Regions from separate parts of the Homo sapiens genome. Here regions 1, 2 and 4 are each reported to be linked to region 3. The links are microRNA targets in miRTarBase. Many come from high-throughput screens and were not tested one by one. Region 3 holds a microRNA gene; each other region holds the end of a gene's coding sequence.
The links. Region 3 holds the annotated microRNA hsa-miR-1227-5p (GUGGGGCCAGGCGGUGG, at 4,013-4,029, opposite strand). A microRNA usually pairs through its seed, bases 2 to 8, with sites in the 3' UTR of a target mRNA and lowers its output. Matches are read on the target gene's strand: a 7mer-m8 pairs with bases 2 to 8, a 7mer-A1 pairs with bases 2 to 7 and ends in A, and an 8mer does both.

Region 1: miRTarBase lists DAZAP2 as a target of hsa-miR-1227-5p. Seed matches in the 3' UTR shown: 7mer-A1 at 1,038-1,044.
Region 2: miRTarBase lists ELOVL5 as a target of hsa-miR-1227-5p. Seed matches in the 3' UTR shown: 7mer-A1 at 4,208-4,214.
Region 4: miRTarBase lists ACIN1 as a target of hsa-miR-1227-5p. Seed matches in the 3' UTR shown: 7mer-m8 at 3,923-3,929.

Annotation. Positions count from the first base shown.
Region 1 is chr12:51,242,068-51,246,932 of GRCh38, forward strand. DAZAP2 (DAZ associated protein 2) reads left to right here. Exons shown (of 4, transcript NM_014764.4): 4 at 263-1,866. The coding sequence ends at 391. SMAGP (small cell adhesion glycoprotein) reads right to left here. Exons shown (of 4, transcript NM_001031628.2): 3 at 4,684-4,764; 4 at 2,491-4,052. The coding sequence ends at 3,874. Among named protein-coding and RNA genes, the nearest start is that of DAZAP2, 5.7 kb to the left of the region's middle.
Region 2 is chr6:53,264,853-53,269,910 of GRCh38, forward strand. It overlaps ELOVL5 (ELOVL fatty acid elongase 5), which reads right to left. Exons shown (of 8, transcript NM_021814.5): 8 at 2,552-4,418. The coding sequence ends at 4,275. Among named protein-coding and RNA genes, the nearest start is that of MIR5685, 9.6 kb to the right of the region's middle.
Region 3 is chr19:2,230,121-2,235,138 of GRCh38, forward strand. It overlaps MIR1227 (microRNA 1227), which reads right to left and starts at 4,029; the gene lies at 3,942-4,029. It overlaps DOT1L (DOT1 like histone lysine methyltransferase), which reads left to right. Exons shown (of 28, transcript NM_032482.3): 28 at 1-2,458. PLEKHJ1 (pleckstrin homology domain containing J1) reads right to left here. Exons shown (of 6, transcript NM_018049.3): 4 at 4,030-4,120; 5 at 3,878-3,941; 6 at 3,033-3,785. The coding sequence ends at 3,720. RefSeq lists enhancers at 4,434-5,013, 5,016-5,018.
Region 4 is chr14:23,055,183-23,060,240 of GRCh38, forward strand. It overlaps ACIN1 (apoptotic chromatin condensation inducer 1), which reads right to left. Exons shown (of 19, transcript NM_001386863.1): 19 at 3,382-4,292. The coding sequence ends at 3,966. It overlaps CDH24 (cadherin 24), which reads right to left and starts at 2,338. Exons shown (of 13, transcript NM_144985.4): 1 at 2,221-2,338; 2 at 351-675; 3 at 1-171. The coding sequence starts at 551. LOC105370705 (collagen alpha-2(I) chain-like) reads left to right here and starts at 2,478. Exons shown (of 2, transcript NR_169511.1): 1 at 2,478-2,860; 2 at 3,103-3,467. RefSeq lists silencers at 2,218-2,337, 2,418-2,567.

The DNA of each region.
Region 1 (4,865 bases), not on the chromosome of region 3:
TGTTCATGTTCAGAAGGTAGCCATAGGCTTCATCTTAGAGCTGGAACCCTTTGAATGAGTGGTAGGCTCCCTTTCCTGTTTGTATCTTTGGGTTCACATAAAGTATAGACCTACTTTAGAACTCAAATTGGTGGCGGAACTAGCTCCTTAAAACGCAGCTGGTTAGCACATTGCCTCATCCTAACAGGCCTCTGCTTCCCCTATGTCCCCTTCGCTTATATTAGCTGCCCTGTGCCCATTCTATCATGTCATTTCCTTTCAGCCTCCACCTCCTGGATGCCCTCCCAATGCTGCTCAGCTTGCAGTCATGCAGGGAGCCAACGTCCTCGTAACTCAGCGGAAGGGGAACTTCTTCATGGGTGGTTCAGATGGTGGCTACACCATCTGGTGAGGAACCAAGGCCACCTCTGTGCCGGGAAAGACATCACATACCTTCAGCACTTCTCACAATGTAACTGCTTTAGTCATATTAACCTGAAGTTGCAGTTTAGACACATGTTGTTGGGGTGTCTTTCTGGTGCCCAAACTTTCAGGCACTTTTCAAATTTAATAAGGAACCATGTAATGGTAGCAGTACCTCCCTAAAGCATTTTGAGGTAGGGGAGGTATCCATTCATAAAATGAATGTGGGTGAAGCCGCCCTAAGGATTTTCCTTTAATTTCTCTGGAGTAATACTGTACCATACTGGTCTTTGCTTTTAGTAATAAAACATCAAATTAGGTTTGGAGGGAACTTTGATCTTCCTAAGAATTAAAGTTGCCAAATTATTCTGATTGGTCTTTAATCTCCTTTAAGTCTTTGATATATATTACTTGTTATAAATGGAACGCATTAGTTGTCTGCCTTTTCCTTTCCATCCCTTGCCCCACCCATCCCATCTCCAACCCTAGTCTTCCATTTCCTCCCGCCAGTCTCCATTGAATCAATGGTGCAGGACAGAAAGCCAGTCAGACTAATTTCCTTCTTTCCTCGCACTTCTCCCCACTCGTCATCTTTTAACTAGTGTTTCACAAGGATCCTCTGAAACCCTCTCTGTGCCCCAAGTACAGATGCCATTACTTCTGCTTTCGTATCTCCTCAGGCAAAAGTGGAGGGTGCCTTATGGGCCCTCCTCATAGGTTGTCTCTGCATACACGAACCTAACCCAAATTTGCTTTGGTGCCAGAAAAACTGAGCTATGTTTGAACAAAGATGTCGTGCAAACTGTACTGTGAACAACAGTTGGTTTAAAATATGAGGGGCAAGGAGGAGGATGCATTTCAAAAGCTTGATTGATGTGTTCAGAGCTAAATTAAGAGGAGTTTTCAGATCAAAAACTGGTTACCATTTTTTGTCAGAGTGTCTGATGCGGCCACTCATTCGGCTCCCCAGAATTCCTAGACTGGGTTAATAGGGTCATATTGTGAATGTCTCACTACAAAATGACTTGAGTCCAGTGAAATCTCATTAGGGTTTAAGAATATTTCAGGGATCCTTAATGTTTTGATTTTTGTTTTCTGAAATTGGATTTTATTTTATTTTATCTTATAATTTCAGTTCATCTAAATTGTGTGTTCTGTACATGTGATGTTTGACTGTACCATTGACTGTTATGGAAGTTCAGCGTTGTATGTCTCTCTCTACACTGTGGTGCACTTAACTTGTGGAATTTTTATACTAAAAATGTAGAATAAAGACTATTTTGAAGATTTGAATAAAGTGATGAAGTTGCATTACACCTCACTGCAAGGATTCTTTACTTAGCTTGTTTTTAGATTTCTTCTATATATATTTTATTTATATCCCATCTAGAATTCAGCTAGGTGCTGCTGCTGCTCTGTTTCCTTTGATGACGCTTTGAAATAAAGGCAGGAGTACAAGCCTAAGACTTGATCATTTCATGAATTCCATTCCAGATGTTCAACTTTTCATCATTTTACTCCAACCTCTTACAAATTTTGGAATTTCGGACCTAAACTTAGAAATGAGGGAACTATTGATTCTCCTAACTTGCTCTAAAGTTTGGCTTGAAGAAAAGGTTCTGGTATAGCAATTTGTATACGTTGAGGATGACCTTTAGTTTCTCCAATGTTCTATGTGGAGAAATACTGAAAACTCATAGAATCTAGGTTGCCAAGATAGATTCCTCAGCTCTTTTATTTATTTTTTGAGACAGGGTCTCCCTCTGTCACCCGGGCTGGAGTGCAGTGGCAGTGTCTGCTCACTGCAACCTCCACCTCCCGGGTTCAAGTGATTCTCCTGTCTCAGCCTCCTGAGTAGCTGGGATTACAGGCACCTGCTACAACACCTGGTTCATTTCTGTACTTTTAGTAGAGACGGCTTCACTGCGTTGGCCACGCTGGTCTCAAACTCCTGACCTCAAGTGATCTGTCTGCCTCAGCCTCCCAAAGTATTGGGATAACAGGCAGTGAGTCACTGCACCCAGCCAGATTCCTCAGCTCTTGATCTTAACTTGGTTGGGTTTGAGCTTGGACAACAGAGGCAATACATTAAGACTTCAAAGGAGATCTAGCTTTAATTCCAAAGTGAACAATATCTGATGAGCTAATAATTTATACCAAAATGTGCCTTTTAAACACAACTTATCTTGAGACTAAAATCCAAGAAGCTTCTTGGCTTGATTCTGAGGATACACTGGGAAAGGTGGTAGGTTGATTTTTTCTGGTTCCTTCTGTATATATGTAGAAGGGATTCTGGGAAATTCTGGCCCTTGCCAGGATGGAGGCTTGAACCAACTCATCTCCCAGGGTACTTTTTTTTTTTTTTTTTTTTTTGAGACGGAGTCTCACTCTGTTGCCCAGGCTGGAGTATAGTGGTGCAATCTCAGCTCACTGCAAGCTCCGCCTCCTGGGTTCAAGCCATTCTCCTGCCTCAGCCTCCCAAGCAGCTGGGACTATGGGCGCCCGCCACCACGCCCAGCTATTTTTTTTATATATTTTTAGTAGAGACGGGGTTTCACCGTGTTAGCCAGGATGGTCTCGATCTCCTAACCTTGTGATCCGCCTGCCTCGGCCTCCCAAAGTGCTGGGATCACAGGCGTGAGCCACCGAACCCGGCCCTCCCAGGGTATGTTTCTAATGATGTTCCCCTGGAACAAGCTTTCCTGCACCATCTTTGTCTCAAATCCCTGAGATAGTTCTGCAAACTTCTAGAACTTTCCTAGGGTTCTTATTGCTTGGAAGAGAACATATGTAAAGGCGTTAAATAGGGAAAAGAAAATGTCAAAAATGTTTAAGCAAAAATAAGTCAAAATGTAGTTACTTCTTGCACATGAGAATCTGATTTCTGTAGCAATGAAAATTTTTAATTTGAATAAAAATCACGTAAGCATGAGGTTGTTGGGGAACACGGAAAGGAAGGGCTCAGATTAGGGGGTGTAGCACATTTATCAGGAGGTAAGATCTCCATAGTCTCCTACCCCTCCTGGCCTGGCCTTTTACTGTGGTATCCAGCCTCTGGGAAGACCTTGTATGGACAGTATCTCCACTGGGGCTATCACTAGGTGACCAGGTAGGGGACAGAGTAGAGCAGCCAATGACCTTAACTCAAAATCTTTTCTCTCCCTTCAACCTGTGAAAAAAGATGACTGGGCACATACTCAGATGTCCCCTGGCATAGCCACATCTTGTTGGCCAGTCACAAACACCAGCTCTAGTAAGAGGGCCTGGTTAAAGATATCATAAACAGCTTTCTCCATGTCCCTGGTCCCTGGAGTCAGTGATGTCGGCATTTGGGACTGCGACCTGGCTGGAGCTTGGATTTGCCCACATCAATCAATGCTTCTCCCTGGCTTCAGAGAAAACTTTCCCATAATAAGCAGTCAACGTGTTAGCGATGGAGCCAGGAATAAGCTCCTTGGGGCCTGGGAGTCATTAGATGAAATATTCCTCTTTCTCGCTGCCCTTGGCCAAGTCACTCTCCATCTGGACGATGGCACTGGGCTCACCTTCTGTAGGTTCATAGGTGACGTAGCTGCCTTTGTTCTTGTACAGGTAAAAGAAGATCAAGATCACGACCGAGAGCAGGGTGAGGAAGACAACGGTGATAACAACTTGGAAAGGAGAGGGAAAATGTAGAGATGTTTCAGGATTGAGGATGTCTCAGTAGTTCCTGGAGTCATCTGATTTAGTCACTGTTTTCGTAAAGATCCTCTTGTTTTCATTAACTAGTGTCCACTTCCATCCAAACCCATGTTCCCCCACCAACCCCAATTTCCATGGCACATAATAGCTGGAGTCTCCTGGTGCTTAAGCTAAGGACACATGCTTTTGATTTCTGACAAAACTGAACTGCCTCCCAAACCAGTTCCTGATTCTTAAAGAAACGGGAAGGAGGGAACAGGAAATGGCTTATCCTAACAGGAAGTGGTTTATCTGATCCTCCCCCTCTTCCTCACCCACTCAACCAACCACATATATCCTCGTCCCTACCCACGTACTCAAGTGTAACGTCCGTATGCATATCTATTTGCGGCCACCTCCCAACCTGTCATTTACTGGTAGTGCCTCTGACAGAAGCCTCCGAGTCTTTTATGGCTGTGTGTGTGTGTGTGTGTGTGTGTGTGTGTGTGTAATATAACTTACAAGCCAGAGTGAGCCCATTAATGGATTTGGTCAGGCTCCCTCTGGAGAGAGATGCCCTTGATCCAGAAGGTCCCTTGGAGTTGGCTCAGAGTCTATTACCTGCAATGAGTGCTGTGCTGGCTCCATCTTCTGGGGACAGGGCCTCAGTGGGCTGTAAAATTGGGGTGGTCATCAGTTCTTCTGGAAAATGTAGAAAAGTGGAAAAGGAAATGGAGTGAATTCTTTTGTTTGAAAGCATATGTTTGGCCTTCAAATTTCACCACCCCACCTTCTTCCCTATT
Region 2 (5,058 bases), not on the chromosome of region 3:
CTACAAAAATGTCAAGGATAACAAAAGCAGGTTTTAAATCTATGCCTGGAGTAAGAACTAATGGCCAATGAAGCAATGCTGAAGAGCAGAGCAAAAAACTGACAGCAACCACTATTTGGCTCCATCTGCTCCACTGAGGACAATCATTTCCAAATTAAAGAGTGTAAAGAAAAACCTGGTTAGGATTTGAAGTCCAAGAGTGATAAGGGGATAGCAGGAAACACCTGTTTTAAACGAGTTCTCATGAAAGACATGTCAGTCGCTGAAACAACCTGTGGATATGACTGCAGAATTGTTGTCAGAACTCCAGGGAAACAATGAACGAAGTCCAGATACTGATAATCACTGCCCTATTTTCCAAAGTAGATTCTAAAAACTCCAGAATGGTGAACTTAATGTAAAACTCTGGCAAAATCAGGAATAATATAGACGGTGAACATTTGACTCCTAACAATTGCTGATTTCTTTTCAACACTGATTTAACAAAGAAAATGTCACACGAAATAACTTCCTTCCCTTTTTTTGGATAGGATTACTAGAGCAGCCAACCAGGGAAATAACAGTGAAACAATAGCTTACAGCTGAAAGAGACCAGTGGGGTGAGTTGAGATTACAATCCTGAAGTTATCACTTACACTTTACTCTGAGCTAGATGGGGTTCCAAAGGCTTTATATATACAGTATCATTAGTCATCTATTTAATCCTTACAAGGACCCTGTAACATAGAAACTAACATTACTCCTATTTGGCAGAAGAGAAAACTAAGGCAAAGTTTTCTTGCCAAAAGGTCATACAGGTAGGATTTCAACCCAGCCAATGTGGTCTCCAAGTTGTACTTCTCATATTAGTCTACAATGCCCTTCACATGATTAGCAAGGCTGCCAAAAATAGAGGGAGAAATGGGAATCCTCCCTTTTCCATACAAGAAAAAGGACAGCAGAACACATCTGCCCTCTCTCTCGCCTCTTATCCACTCACTTCTCTGACGGGAGGAGGGAAGACTTTGATTGCTGCTTGGGAGGTGCAGCTAAGCACACTTTCTTGGCATGGTAAGGTCATCAGTGTAGAATCTGCCACAAGGGGAGTTTACAATTTAAGGTAGGTAAATTCCAGGACTGATATTTAATATATTTTAATAATCACTTTATCACCAGACCAACCCTCAGAGCAACCACTGGTGTGCTACTGAGCCCTGGTAAGTTAGGTTAATAGAGTTATTAGCAAGGGTTAATTAGAGAGCCACACTGTGGTCTTAGTTTCACCAATCCAGCCTTCTTAGTAAGACACATGCTATTTTGATTCCTACTGGTCTAATTTCCAGTATTTTTTCAATTTGTTCTGAACTTAGAGGGGAAAGACAGGGATATAATTTATTCCCATCAACTCCCCAACAATCCTCTTACACCTTCTGGATAATATCCCAAGTACTAAATGCAGTTTTAGGTGACATTTCTCTGGAGTTCTGACAATTCTGCAGTCACATCCGCAGGTAATTTCAGCAACTAACATGACTTTCATGAGCACTCATTTAAAACGGTATAGGCTTAGTCTTGGCTCTTAGGTGCTTTCTAGTTTAGTACCTAAGAGCCTATACTGGGGACCATATGGTATGAAGTAGATGGAAGGAAGATGGACCATCCATGTCATCTCTCCTGTTGTAGACGTGAATGTACCTGTAAATTCAAAATAAGTAGGGTACGCTGGGAAGGGCCACAATCTGGGACATAAAATGATCTTTGGCAAATAAAATGATTGAGCTTTAGGTCCAAGGGGAGGGGACCTCATTACTCTAGAGTAGAGGTCAGCAAACTATAGGCACAGGCCTTCTGTTTTGTAATTTTTTTTTTTAAAGAGATGGGGTCTCACTCTGTTGCCCAGGCTGGAGTGCAGTCACATGACCCTAGCTCACCGTAACTTCGAACTCATGGGTTCAGGCGATCTTTGGCCTCATCCTCCTGAGTAGCTGGGACTGCTGGTATGTACCACCATGCCCAGTTAATTTTTAAAAATTTTATGTAGAGATGAGGTCTTGCTATGTTTTCCAAGCCTGTAAATAAAGTTTTATTAGAACACAGCCATGCCCATTCATTTACATATTGTCTATGGCTGTTTTTGTGCTCCACGATGGCACAGTCAAGTGGCTGCAACAGGGACTGTATGTCCTGCAAAGCCTGAAATATTTTCCAACTGGTTCTTTCCAGAAAAAAATTTTGCAGAAGACCTATGGTCTAGACCTAGGAAAGTAATTCTAACATTCTCAGGGTAAGGGGAGAGATTGGGGCCAATGGGGAGGAAGGACAAAGGAGCATATTTAGAGCTGGAACCTTTAGTGGGATTACCTGGAGGAGGCAGAGGGGACAGCATTAGGGTGGAACCACCACTATGCCTTATTATGCAGGGTCCTTCCTCATTGAGAACTAAGCAATAATATGGCCTTCCTAACTGAATTATTTATATCCATTTGTGTAAGTTCCTAGACAGTGAATTAAGTGGATTTTTCTCCAGTTCTTCAGAATTGCCAGCACAAAAAATGTAAAATGCAGGCACAGGTAATCAAAAATGTTTTAATGATTACTGTTTAGACATTTAACAATGTAGGTATATCCAGGTGAGCTAAGCACACTTTGACAGCACACTATTGAATGTTATAGTTTCTGTATTGAAATATGTAAAGACATCTGCAAATTAGTACCTAGCAATGAAGACATACATTTATAAATATACACATTCTAGGTTTGATAAGGTAAATGTAAACAGATGCCATGACTCCTTTTCAAACAGAAAACCCACAAGACTAATAGAGAACCAATAGGCTCCCTATAGTACGAATGTGCAAAATTAAAGCATGGTAAACTGATATTTACATAAATATCAAACCAACAATTAGTTTATACATTGTCAATGACCTTCTAAGATATGTCATGAGTGGTTCCAAGAATATCTTTCCCCCAATGGAGAAGGTATTCAGAGGCTAAATTCCGACACTTTAAAATGACACACATCATAGGCTTTACCTGTTTGACCACTGCCTCAAATGTGTGAGATGTGATTTTATGATAAGCAGTCTATTATTTTTAAACAAGAGGTTCTAAACACATCTTTAGATTCTAAGCAGAAAGAAATTACAAGTACTATTAGATTTACATTAAACAAGTTACCTCTATCAAATTTCTCGATTCTCTTATGCTGTAGCTATATTTGATTTTACCTTAAAAAGTTCTAAGGTCCTTTCCCCCCCTTTGTTAATTTTGGTAAACTAGGCACATTTTACAAGGAAATCTGTGTCAAAACAGATAACAGTGCATAAATCAATCCAAATTTAGACCCTGGCAACCAGTTCCCCATTGCTCATCTACGGGACTCTGTCAAACGGTAAATAGGCAATCATCTCTCTTGAAAAGTATACATCCTCTCTCGCACTGGTGGAAAGCAAAATTGACTTTTTGTTTGCTGTATAAAAACACTTAGCACTTCAGAAATTAAAAATGGCCTACTCACCCTACACCCTTCCTAAAATCTCGAGGACAAAGAATATATATTTAAGTTTCATCACGACTGCTGTAGAGCCCCCCCCTTTTTACATTAATAGTGGCACTCAAAATAAAAAAATAAGATCTGTTAAAAAGTTAAACTGACTGTTCCACTAGATTTGAGCCTGCTTGATTCAAAGCCAATAGTACAAAACTGAAGGTGCCGTGTCTGATTTCACATCAACAAGTCACTGGAAATTATGTCACATTAGTTTCATAAATCATGGTCTTTGATTTTTTCTAAACAGAGCTATTACAAATTAATACAAACTTGAAACATACCCTAATTTAAACTAATAAGCTTTGGGCCCTGCTTTTTAAATTTTAAGGCATGTGTGTTTCTCTACCATAACAACATTGTACAAATTTACATTTACAATCACATGCATGATCTACAGTTAAAAAAAAAAGTTTGGATTACAGTGTTTTTAAATTGTGAATCACAATTCAGCACCTATCATGTTATAACTAATAAGGCAACAGCAGTGTTGTATACTATAATAATACTCCCTTTCCACAGTCTAGCGCAGGGGTCAGAGAGCCCAGAAATGTTAGAAATCTTATCCCTACTTATATAATCTGTATACGTTTTCTAGGGGTTTTGAATTGATGAAAGAAGTCCTACATGAATCACACTATTGTAGGCCAGACTAGTTACAGCAGCTGTTAACGAGCATTGGGGCACAACTCATATTGTGCTTACAATCAGATGACGTGGTTTGGAGGGTTTCAATTCTTTGACTTCAATCCTTCCGCAGCTTCCTTGGCTTCACATTGTTTTCCAGGGGTGAAAAGCTGTTGGTGTGTCCATTCACAGCAGCCATGGACCCATTCTGGTGGTCCTTCAGGTGGTCTTTCCTTCGGGAGGCCCCTTTCTTGTTGTAGGTCTAAAATGTGTAAGGGCAGATGAGAACCAAATGACCACAGTTTTCTTTATAGGGAACTTTACTGAGAATTGCATCCCTAACACTAGGCCTAGTTTCAAGATCAAATCTTATCAAGGAGAAACTCCTGAGGTCAAGTCCTCATTGACTAAATCTTTTGTCACTGGTTTCAATCATTCTTCCTTTTTTTTTTTGAGGCTTAGCCTGAGGTAAGTTAACTGAATCACAGGCTGCAACAGAAATACTATTTAAAATGTCACATAGAAAATTCAATTTACACTTTGCTTTGCCTTTTAGTATCTGGATGGCAGATGACAGGGGTTATGTGGCCAAATTGGTCTTTCCCACCTGGCAGCAGCTCTCTTGACACCCACATCCCTTGTTCGTCTTCAAAAGTTCCTCACTGCCTCGGCGACTATCTCAGCCTTCATGAACAAAGTGCTATGCTGCTATAAGTAGTTAGAATAAATGTGATTTCAGCTTCATCGGGTCCTATCCTTTCACCTTCCTTGTAGCTGGTGTATGTCCCACAGTGCAGCCATAAACTATGAAGCCCAGAAGTATATGACTTCCACTGAAACTCAACATGCCACACACAGGTGCTTGTGGGCACAGAAGAAGAAAGGACAAATGTCTGAGCCTC
Region 3 (5,018 bases):
AGGGCGGGCCCGCCAGCGGATTCGCCACAGCCTGCCCCGGTGCTATCTCGTCCCCAGGCCCGCGCCTGCCTCCACCCGCTTGGTGCTGACTAGACGCTGACAACGCCGAACCCCGTTCTCGGAAACGCCGCCCGGCCGGCTCCCCCGACGCGCTGCTCCCGTACCAAAGGCAGGCCCGTCGCCACCACATTCCTCGGAGGCCTCCCCGCGGCCTGAGCCCCTTCCTGAGCGCCCTGGCGCCTGCCCTGAGCTCTTCACCTTTACCCCGGCACTGTGAACCCCCAGACTGTTCACCCTCCGGGGCGTGGGTTGCGCCCTTGCATGTGAAGGGGCCTGCGCGGTGACGCAGCTGGCCATGTGCTGCGCGATGGTGCTGTGAGGACGGCGCGGGCACGTTGAACAAGTGCATTTACTTTTGTATTTCTCGGCTGTCCATGGCTCGCAGCATGCCCTGCGATGCGGGGCAGGCCTGTCGTGGGTCCCTTGGTGTTTCTGTACAGGAGAGAGTCACACTAATGAGTGGCAGTATTTTATAGAGATGTGATGAGAATTTATAAATTTCATAGATTTGACAGCTTTTATTTTTAGATGGTATAATGCACAGTGAAGAGGAAAGAAAAGCGAGGGGAAAAAACCTTATTTATTCAAACAGTGCACAAAATGGCCCCAGCGTCAGCCCCGACCCTAGACCCCTCAGTTGCAGCTCCCAGCAGCCCAGACAGAGCTGCCGGCGCCCCTGCCTGCCCCACATCCCTTCCTGTCAGGGCCACGCCTGGCACCCATCCCTTGGAGCCTGTGCTGGTTCTCCCAGCTGCTGTGGGTGTGCTGGGGCCAGGGTGCACTGCTGAAACCTGGCCTCTCTGGCCCTAGGCCCCAGGGTGACGTCGGCCCCCCACTCTGCAGCCTTGGCGGGTGCCTGGGACTGGGTGTGGAAGGAGAGGAGCTGAGGCCGGGGTGTAGCAGGCAGGCAGGGCCACTCCAGTGCTTCTGGAGCCCTGAGCAGTCAGGGCCTGGGTTGTCTGAGCAGTGGTGGCTCTGTGCCCTCCCTGGAGGATGGGATCTGGGAGTCTGAGCTCCCCGCATCTGGCCCTGGGCTGTGTGGCACTTGCTGAGCCCACCTTCTCAAGTGCTTGCTCCTGTGAGATGGCATCGGGGAGCCCCTTCCCCAAGGTGCCACAGATCCACCCTCCAGGGAGCTGCCAGCCCTGTGTTCTGGTTCCCAAGGGCAGGATGGACACACGTCACATCCCTACCACGTGGCCTCCAAAGGGAGCCACGGAGGAAAGGCTTCTGTGGTTGCTAGGTGGGGGAGTCCTGTGTGGGAGGGCCTGAAGACCCCTGCTTGTGCCTGGTGAGGGGGGTGCTGCCTCCCCCAGCCCCCAACAACCTCTCAGACCCCCACCCTCCAACATAGCTGAGTTCTGAAGATGGTGCTCCGGACCTGTCCTCTTAAGTGGTGCCCAGTGCCCTCCCCACCCCACGTTGGTGCTCTCAGCTAGAAGGTGCTGTGCCTCTGCCTGAGCCCCAAGCCCCGAGCCTGGCCTTCAGGACAGGCAGCCTGCTCTGTGTCGCCACGGGCCGGATACGCCACAGGGTTGATGGCAGAGACGGCCGAGTCCCTGGTCTAGAACAAGACACATTCTTTAAACACTGTATTACTTCTGCCTCCCTCTAGGTGACAGTGGCAGTCCGGGTGCCATCACGGGTCCTGCAGATGGCCATGCAGGGCTCCTGCCCACGCAGGCCACCGTATGTTCAGGACACGCACTGGGTCTCAGAGCCACTGGCCCAGGCAGAAGTCTCCTTGAGCCCACTGGGTCATATGCGTGTCACCACACGTGAACTAGTGTGGTGGCTGCCTGCGGACACCCTCCTGTTCTGAGCCCTGGGCCTGTGTTCTTCTCAGACACTCCCAGACTGAGGGGTGGTGTGTGGCGGGTGGCAGGGTGGCTGTGGAGACTGGGGATCTGGAGCCTGGTGCTGGCACCTGGCCTGAGTTTCCGTGGGCAGCTGGCGGGGACCTGTGCTGCTGCTGCTGACTGTGGGTGGGCGGGCGGCGCCTGGGAGTGGCTCTTGCTCAGGAATTGATAGGAACCCTAAAAACTAGGATACCCCCTCCTCGGCCCATGAGGCACGCACAGTGACTTATTTAAGACTTCCCCCTTAATTTATCTGCCCCCAGGATGCGTCAGTCTGTTCAGTGGTCAGCAGGCCCCCCACCCCCCGCCGACTGCCCTCGCCATCGTGGTCAGACCCCCCTCCCAACACAACACGCTGCTGGTCTGTGTCAGCCTTTGTAACGTGGGAGGCTCTGCCGTGTCTTCCGGGTGAACTGTATTTGGATTGCGCGCATTGTCACGGTCCGCCCCTGGGCTGCAGGCGCCCCTTCCTCTGGGCACCCCTGCATTCTGCATCCCCACCTCTAGACGCTGTAATAAACAGACTGTTTTCACTCGGACCTGGTGTGAATGGCAGCCTTTCTTCCAGGTGGCATGAGGCGTCTCCTGGCGGCCAGTGAGAGGCCCCGGCTAGTGTGTCATCGCCGAAACGGGGAGTGGAGGGCCTAGGGGTGCTCCTAGCAGAAGCTCCGGGGGCTGACACCAGGACACCCTGGCCTTGGGGAGGCTTATGAGGGCACCAGGCCACAGGCAAGGGGAGGCTTATGAGGGCACCAGGCCACAGGCAAAGTGCCTTTTGATGAACGGAAAACCAGATCTGCGACCCCAATGACATCGGCAAAGTCCTTTTCACATCAGATGGACCAAAGCCCGCCCAGGCCCCAGCCACACTCCGGGAGGGCCCGTGAATGCCAGAGGCAGGACCCCAGGTCACCACAGGATTCCTGATACCACACAGCAGCTCTGTTCTCCCCAGGCCTGGGTCCCAGCCTCCACCTGTCCTGGCTGGGGGTTCTAGCTCTCCCCTCAGTGCAGGAGGCCCAGCCACTGCCTCTCAGGACCCTGAGCCTTACTTCCCTTGGGTGGGGGCTCCCTGGCTGCCCCTCCCCTCTCCTTCACTTCACCGCCATCCAGTGTGGAAAAGAGGTACCTTTATTTGAACAGAACAAGCACCCTGGCCCCAGGGCAACCACTTCCCCAGGTGCACAGCCAGGGCCCTCCTGTCTGCAGGAGAATTCACAGCTGGTGTGGGACTCAGCCCCTAGGCCATTCACAGCTTTGTCTGGCTCTGTACATTCATTCAGCACGGGGCAGGGGGGCCATGCCACCAGCCTGGGGGCTCACCAGGCCCCTGGATGCACACAACTCAGGCAGGGCACCTGTGGGAAGGCGCATATCCTGGCGGCAGCAGCACGTGGCACCAGGTGCCAGGCCAGTTAGGTGGATCCTGGGGCCCCAGGGAGCGCAGCTTGCTGGGCAGTTTCATAAAATGCAGCCCCTGCCCACACCCACCTGGCTTCAGGCTTTGGATGTCTCCAAACCAAAAACCTCCCACTGAAAATCCAGGTGTGATGGCCGGGTGTGGCGGCTCATGCCTGTGATCCCCGCTACTTGGGAAGCTGAGGCAGGAGGATCACTTGAGTCCAGAAGGTCAAGGTCACAGTGAGCTGTGGCACCACTGCACTCTAGCCTGGGCAACACAGTGAAACCCTGACCCAAAAACCAAAAACCAAAACAAAACAGATCCAGGCATGGCCAAGCGATTCATGGCTGGGCAGGGCCAGTCCCGTCCCGCTGCACGCTGACCACCGTGCCCTGCGCTCACGCCTGCAAGCCACTCAGCTGGAACCTGGCCTCCTCGGATATGCCGAACTGTTCCAGGGGGTCCTGTGGGGAGGACGGGTGGCCATGAGCCAGGGCTGGAGGACTGCCTCTGCCACCTGCAGCCCCACCCCGGCCCTCTGCAGCCCTGCACACACCTTGCCCGTCACCTTCCGGATTTCGTTCCTGTAGAAGATGAGGCTTCTCCGCATGAACTCGTAGCTGGGGAAAAGGGTGGCACGGGGTCAAATGCCCGCTCTGCATGGCTGCTGTGCCCACCCCAGCAGTGCCCACCACCGCCTGGCCCCACCTGGCCCGACGCAGAGCCTCCATCCACTCCTGACACTGCTCCTCGCTGCTGCACTCAAAGTGATACTTCCTCTCAGGGTCCTCAATGAAGCCTGGGGATGGAACACCTGTGGTCGGTCCTACCCACAGCCACAAGCAGCTTCCTCTTGCCATTGCCCATAAACTGTCCCTTCTCTGGCCCCCACAAAGATGTGTTCATGTCCTGACCCCCCAGAACCCATGAGTATGGCCCTGTATATAAACAGGGTCTTTGCATATAAACTAGTCAAAATGAGGTTGTCGCCAGGTGCGGTGGCTCATGCCTATAATCCCAGCGCTTTGAGAGGCCAAGGTGGGAGGATTGCTTGAGCTCAGGAGTTCGAGACCAGCCTGGGTGACATGGCAAAATCCCCATCTCTACAAAAACAAAAATTAGCCAGGTGTGGTGGTGGGGCCTTGTAGGCCCAGCCACTCCGGAGTCAGAAGTGGGAGGACTGCTTGAGCCAAGGGGGTTGAGGCTGCAGTGAGCTGTGATCACGCCACTGCACTCCAGCCTCGGAAACAAAAGATCCTGTCTCAAAAATAAAGAGGGCCGGGTACGGTGGCTCAAGACCGTAATCCCAGCACTTTGGGAGGCCGAGGTGGGAGGATCACCTGAGGTCAGGAGTTCGAGAGCAGCCTGGCCAATATGGCGAAACCCCGTCTCTACTAAAAATACAAAAATTAGCTGGGCATGGTGGCGCGTGCCTGTAGTACCAGCTACTCGGGAGGCTGAGGCAGGAGAATCACTTGAACCCGAGAGGGGGAAGTTACAGGGAGCCGAGATTGCACCACTGCACTCCAGCCTGGGCGACATACCAAGACCCTGTCTCAAAAAATAAGCAAATAAAATAATAAAGTGAAGTAAAAAGGGGTTGTCAGGGTGGGCCCTAAATTCTGCTTGGCGTCTGTGTAGAAGGGGAAATGTGGGCACAGACGTGATGCAAGGAGGACAAGGTGACGCTTCCACAA
Region 4 (5,058 bases), not on the chromosome of region 3:
TCGGTCCACGGCTTGGGCCAGTAGCACATATTGCGCCTTTTCCTCCCGGTCAAGGCTCTTGGTAACATGAATATTGCCTGTGGCCTCATCAATCACAAATACGGTGCCTGCCCCCTCCCCGGTCAACAGGTACTTGGTGCGGCCCTCTCCCCGGTCAACATCCGAGTGCAGCTGCAGGGGTCACGAAAAGATGGCAGAGGGCTCCAAGTACAGAGACAGGGTTAAAGAGTCTAGGTTTGGGTAGAGCGTTGGGAGTCCTGAGGGACCAAGGTCATTGCAGAAGTGATGAAGTTGCAGGGCAGGGCCTGAGGGCTTGGTGTCAGAGTAGACATGGGAGGGGTCATCCTTACCTTGCCAATGAGAACAGGCTCTGGACCAGCATATTCCTCAATGACAAAGAACTGGTTCCAGACCCAGCTCCTTCGAGTCCGCAGCAGAGCAGGCCCTGGGTGTTCCCGGGACCCTGCCCAGGCCCGGGCTGGGGCTGCCAGACGCCCCATGCAGCCCCAGCCACCCAGCCAGGCCAGCAGGAGCCTCACCAGGCCCCACATGTTTGGACTCCAGCCAGGGCTCTGTTCACTGGCCCTGGGTGCTGAGGCTGGGCCAGGCCACGTGGCCCATGAGCTGGCTGGGGTGGAGGGGCAGATGCGTTGAGGCTACCCCATGGATCCACACCTGCAGGACAAGCAGCTGCTCAGGCTCAAGGAAACCCCTAGCCCTCCTCCCCCGCAAAATTAGATGCTGAAGACCAGACCTCCAAGGAACCAGACACTCCACTGCCCAGAACTCAGACTAAGACAGAGAGCAGAGAGGCTGATCCTTCCTCCACCCAGGCTCTGCATGTATTCACCTCCAGCCCTCCAAGCTGATAAATCTCTGGTCAGTCAACTCTGAGTAGAGAACTGGGGAGGAACACAGGAGAGGGGATGCTGGGAGGGCTTGGAATCCCAAATCTGGTCTCTGTCCTCCCAGGTTGGGCACGTAGCCAGGTATTGGAGGAGGCGGGGCTACCAGAGAAAGGGCTTAAAATTACGGAGTTGGGATTCATGGAGGTGTGGCCTTAAGGTGTCTAGGGTCAGCATGAGATGACAAGGAGTGCAGCCTCAGGCAGGGCTGAGAGTCTGTGAAAGTCCCTCCCCACAAGGGGGAGCCCCACTCTCCAGGCCCTGTCTCCAGCCCACGCTGCCAGTGCAGTCCTTGAAGGGGGACTGGGCTCGTGAGACAGGAGTTGGGAGCCAGAGCTGAAGGAAGAGGATACAGGGTGGGGGACAGGGGGAGGTGACCGGGGAGAGAGGTCCACCCAGAGGCTAGAGACAGATAATGACTGACGGCTAGACTGACTCAGGGACTGTCCGGCAGAGAAATGACTGGATGAGAGACAGAAACAGAACAGTGGCAAGAGACAGAATGAGAGAGACCAGGGCAGCAGCCTGGGTGTCTGAAGGCAGAGAGGAGTCCTAGGGGCCAGGCTTGGAAACGGGTCACCGGGGGCAGTTCCGGGCAGGCAGGGGCAGACCTCAGCTTCGGGGGTGTCAAGCCAGGCCTCGGGAACTTAATTCTGGGAGAAGGAGCAGACAGGAGGGGTGGAGGCAGGGAGGGGCCACGGGAAGGGAGCTAGAGAGGAGACCCTTCCCACTGCTCTCCTTTCTCCTAGGGGCGGGGGGGAGGACCCCTCAGGTAGCTGTGGCTTCTGCCCCTCCTCCCTCAGAGCAGACACACACCTGACAGTCCCTTTGCTCCCGAGGGAAGGGGGAAACCGGAGGAAGGCTGGGGACCAGAGAGAAGGCGGGATGAGGAGGCGAGAAGGAAGGGGATAGAGGAGTGGGAAACAGGATAGCAGGAAGGGGAGAGGAGAGGGAGGGAAAGGAGAGCAAGAAAGAGAAAAGAGAAAGGCAGGAAAGGGGAGAAAGGTAGAGAAAGAAAAAGGCAAAGAGGGAGAGGAGATGGAAAAAGGACAAGAGGGAGAGGGAAGGGTTGGGGAGACAGAGGGAAGGGATAAGGAAGGCAAACAGGCAGAGAAGGAAGGGTGAAGAGAAATCGAGAGAAGAAAGAGGGAGAGAGGTGCGAGGGGAGAAGGGAAAGAGGCAGAGCGCGGGAGAAGGGAGCCGGCAGCGGGCTCCCAGCCACGGAGCGCACCCCTCCGAAGACCCCCGCAGGCTGCGGGCCCCCTCCTACCCCTCCGCGGATTCCCGACCCCTGCTCCGGGGCAGGCGCCCTTACCTGGCACTGCCGAGGGGCCCAGGCCGGCGGGAAGCGCCCCCGCCCGCCCCCGTCGCCGGGTCCCGGGGGCACAGCCCCGAGCCGATTGGAGCGGGCGCCGCGGCTCCGCTGCAGGTCTGAGCGGCCCCGGCGAGAACAAGGGAGCGAGACGGAGGGGGCGGGGGAAGAAGACTCCGCCTGCGGAGGAGCGAGGCGGCTCCGCGCCGCGCGGGAGAGGAGAGCCCAGCCTCCGACCCTCCCCGGCCAGCCGGGCCCGCGCGGCGGGGGCGGGGGCGGAGGCGGCGCCGCGCGTCCGCCCCCTCGGCGCTCCTGGGCTGCGGGGCGCATACAGATGCGGCGCCCCTCCCGGACCGGGCCCGCAGCGCCCGGCAGGGCACTCGGGCGGGAGGACGTCCAGGCCACGGCGCCAGGCCATTTCCGAAGAGCTGGCGGGGCGGGTGCACCCGGGAGCGCGAAGCTGCCAGTCCCCGCCCGCAGCGGAAAACGGGCGAGCGCGCGGTGAGGTGGGGAATTCGGAGCCCACTGCGGAGAGACCCGGCTCCGGGCTCCCGGTTCCCGGCTGGCTTTTGGGACTGGTGTGGATGGAATCCCAGCTGCAAGGCGGCGGCGTTTTGAGAGCCCATGCAAAGCACGGTAGCAGGTCAGCTGGGGGACACTTAAGGACGGCAGAAGGGTCCAGAGAGTCCGAGGCCCGGGCCCAGGGAGCGGGTCGGGAACAGAGGCACGACATCGGCGGGAGGTCGGAGGCGGGCAGTGGAACCCTTCTTGGGAAGCTCGGTTACAGGGGCCAACAGAGCGAGGAGCTGCCGCCCCCTGGTGGTAGTTGTGGGAGGCACCAAGGTGGCAGGCAGGTGACCAAACCCCTAATTTAACCGTGCACAGGACCAGGAACCAGAAGAGGACCCACCCTCCTAGCCCTGCTGGGGTGCCGCCACGGACACAGGTTGCTCCATGCCTTCCCGAATGAGGAAGGTCCACAGCTTTGGGTTGGTCAGGGCCAAGGCAGGGGATAAAAGACGTGGGAAGTTCAATAAGCAGGAAGCAGTCAGCCTAAAGGAACACATGGAATGAGAGCAACTCCTACTCCAGATATCCTCAGATGTCCACGCTCAGATATCCACAGTGGCTTCTTAACCTGCCCAAAGAAAGCCACTCACACAGTTTAAAACTAAGTCAGATTTTTATTTTTTTTTCCATAGACCACATCATTTAATAATAAAAAAAATAAAAATAAAAATTGAACAAAAGGAAAAGGTGGATATAAAGTGGAACCTGTGGGAAAGAGGCAAGGGCTGCAGGACAGAAGAGACTGGGAACTGCAGGGGCCCTGGGACTCAGGAGGAGATGCTGATTCAGCTCATAGGTGACCCAGTCCTGGCCCCGGCTGTTCCCAAGAGAAGGCTGTAAGTACCCAGGGAGGTGGTAAGCAGGATGGAGGAAAAATCAGAGGACTGGGGCACCTGGCTGTTCCCCATCTCTGGCCAACCACCTCCTTGCCTAACCTAGCTCTTGCCTCTCAGACTTAATGGGAAATGAGAGGGAGGGTCGGGCTAAGTCCCAAGAGATAGGTTAAGGGGGTGTGTTTGGGGGGAAAAGGATGGCCACTTTTCCATTTGGTATGTATGTAGGGATAGGTGATGTGAAAGACCCTTGGCTCCAGGGTGGTGGAGACTGTGCCTATCCCTCTGTGGCCATAACCCCCTGGGGCCGAGTGGCTGGTACCTGCAGCTCTAGTGTTTTCCCAGCTAGCGGCGCCCACCCCGGTCCCGCACAGGTGTGCTCCGACTCCGGCTTCTGCTGTGGCGCTTGGTGTCCCTGCGATCCCTTTCCCTGCCTCGTTCTCGGTCCCTTTCCCTATCCCGATCTCGGTCCCCCCTGTCCCGCTCCCTTTCTCTCTCTCTCTCCCTGTCCCTCTCCCGACTGTGCTCCCGACGTTTCTCTCGCTCCAGCTGTCGGTTCCGTTCCCGCTCGGCTTCCTTCTCCCGCTCCTTTTGCTCTTCTTCTTCTTGCTCCTTTCGCCGCTTCTCCCGCTCCTTGGCCCGTTCGGCCCGCTCTGCCTCTTTCTGAACGATCTGTAGCCAGGTAGGAAAGGCAGAGAATAGGCAGCTCAGTCCTGGTCACAGCCTCCATTTGTGCCTGGACCCTGCCTCCTAGCTCAGGGTCAGCTTTTCAGTTAAACAGGAAGGGGTTGGGGGCTCAACAACTGCATCCTGTCTTTCTTAGAGCACCTCTCTCCCTCCTAGTTTCAGCCTTTTTTTTTTTTTTTCTGAGACGGAGTCTCGCTCCGTCGCCCAGGCTGGGAGTGCAGTGGCACGATCTCGGCTCACTGCAAGCTCCACCTCCCGGGTTCACACCATTCTCCTGCCTCAGCCTGCTGAGCAGCTGGGACCACAGGCGCCCGCGACCACGCCCGGCTAATTTTTTTGTATTTTCAGTAGAGACGGGGCTTCACCGTTGTTAGCCAGGATGGTCTTGATCTCCTGACCTCGTGATCCGCCCGCCTCAGGCTCCCAAAGTGCTGGGATTACAGGCGTGAGCCACCGCGCCCCGCCAGTTTTTTTTTTTTTTTTTTTTTGAGACAGTCTCACTCTGTCGCCCAGGCTGGAGTGCAGTGGTGCTATCTTGGCTCACTGTGGTCTCCGACTCGCAGGTTCAAGTGATTCTCCTGCCTCAGCCTCCCTAGTAGCTGGGATTACAGGTGTCTGCCACCATGCCCCACTAAGTTTTGTATTTTTAGTAGAGATGGGGTTTCACCATGTTGGCCAGGATGGTATCAAACTCCTGGCTTAGATGGAGGCTTAGATGATCCGCCCACCTCAGCCTCCCAAAGTGCTGGGA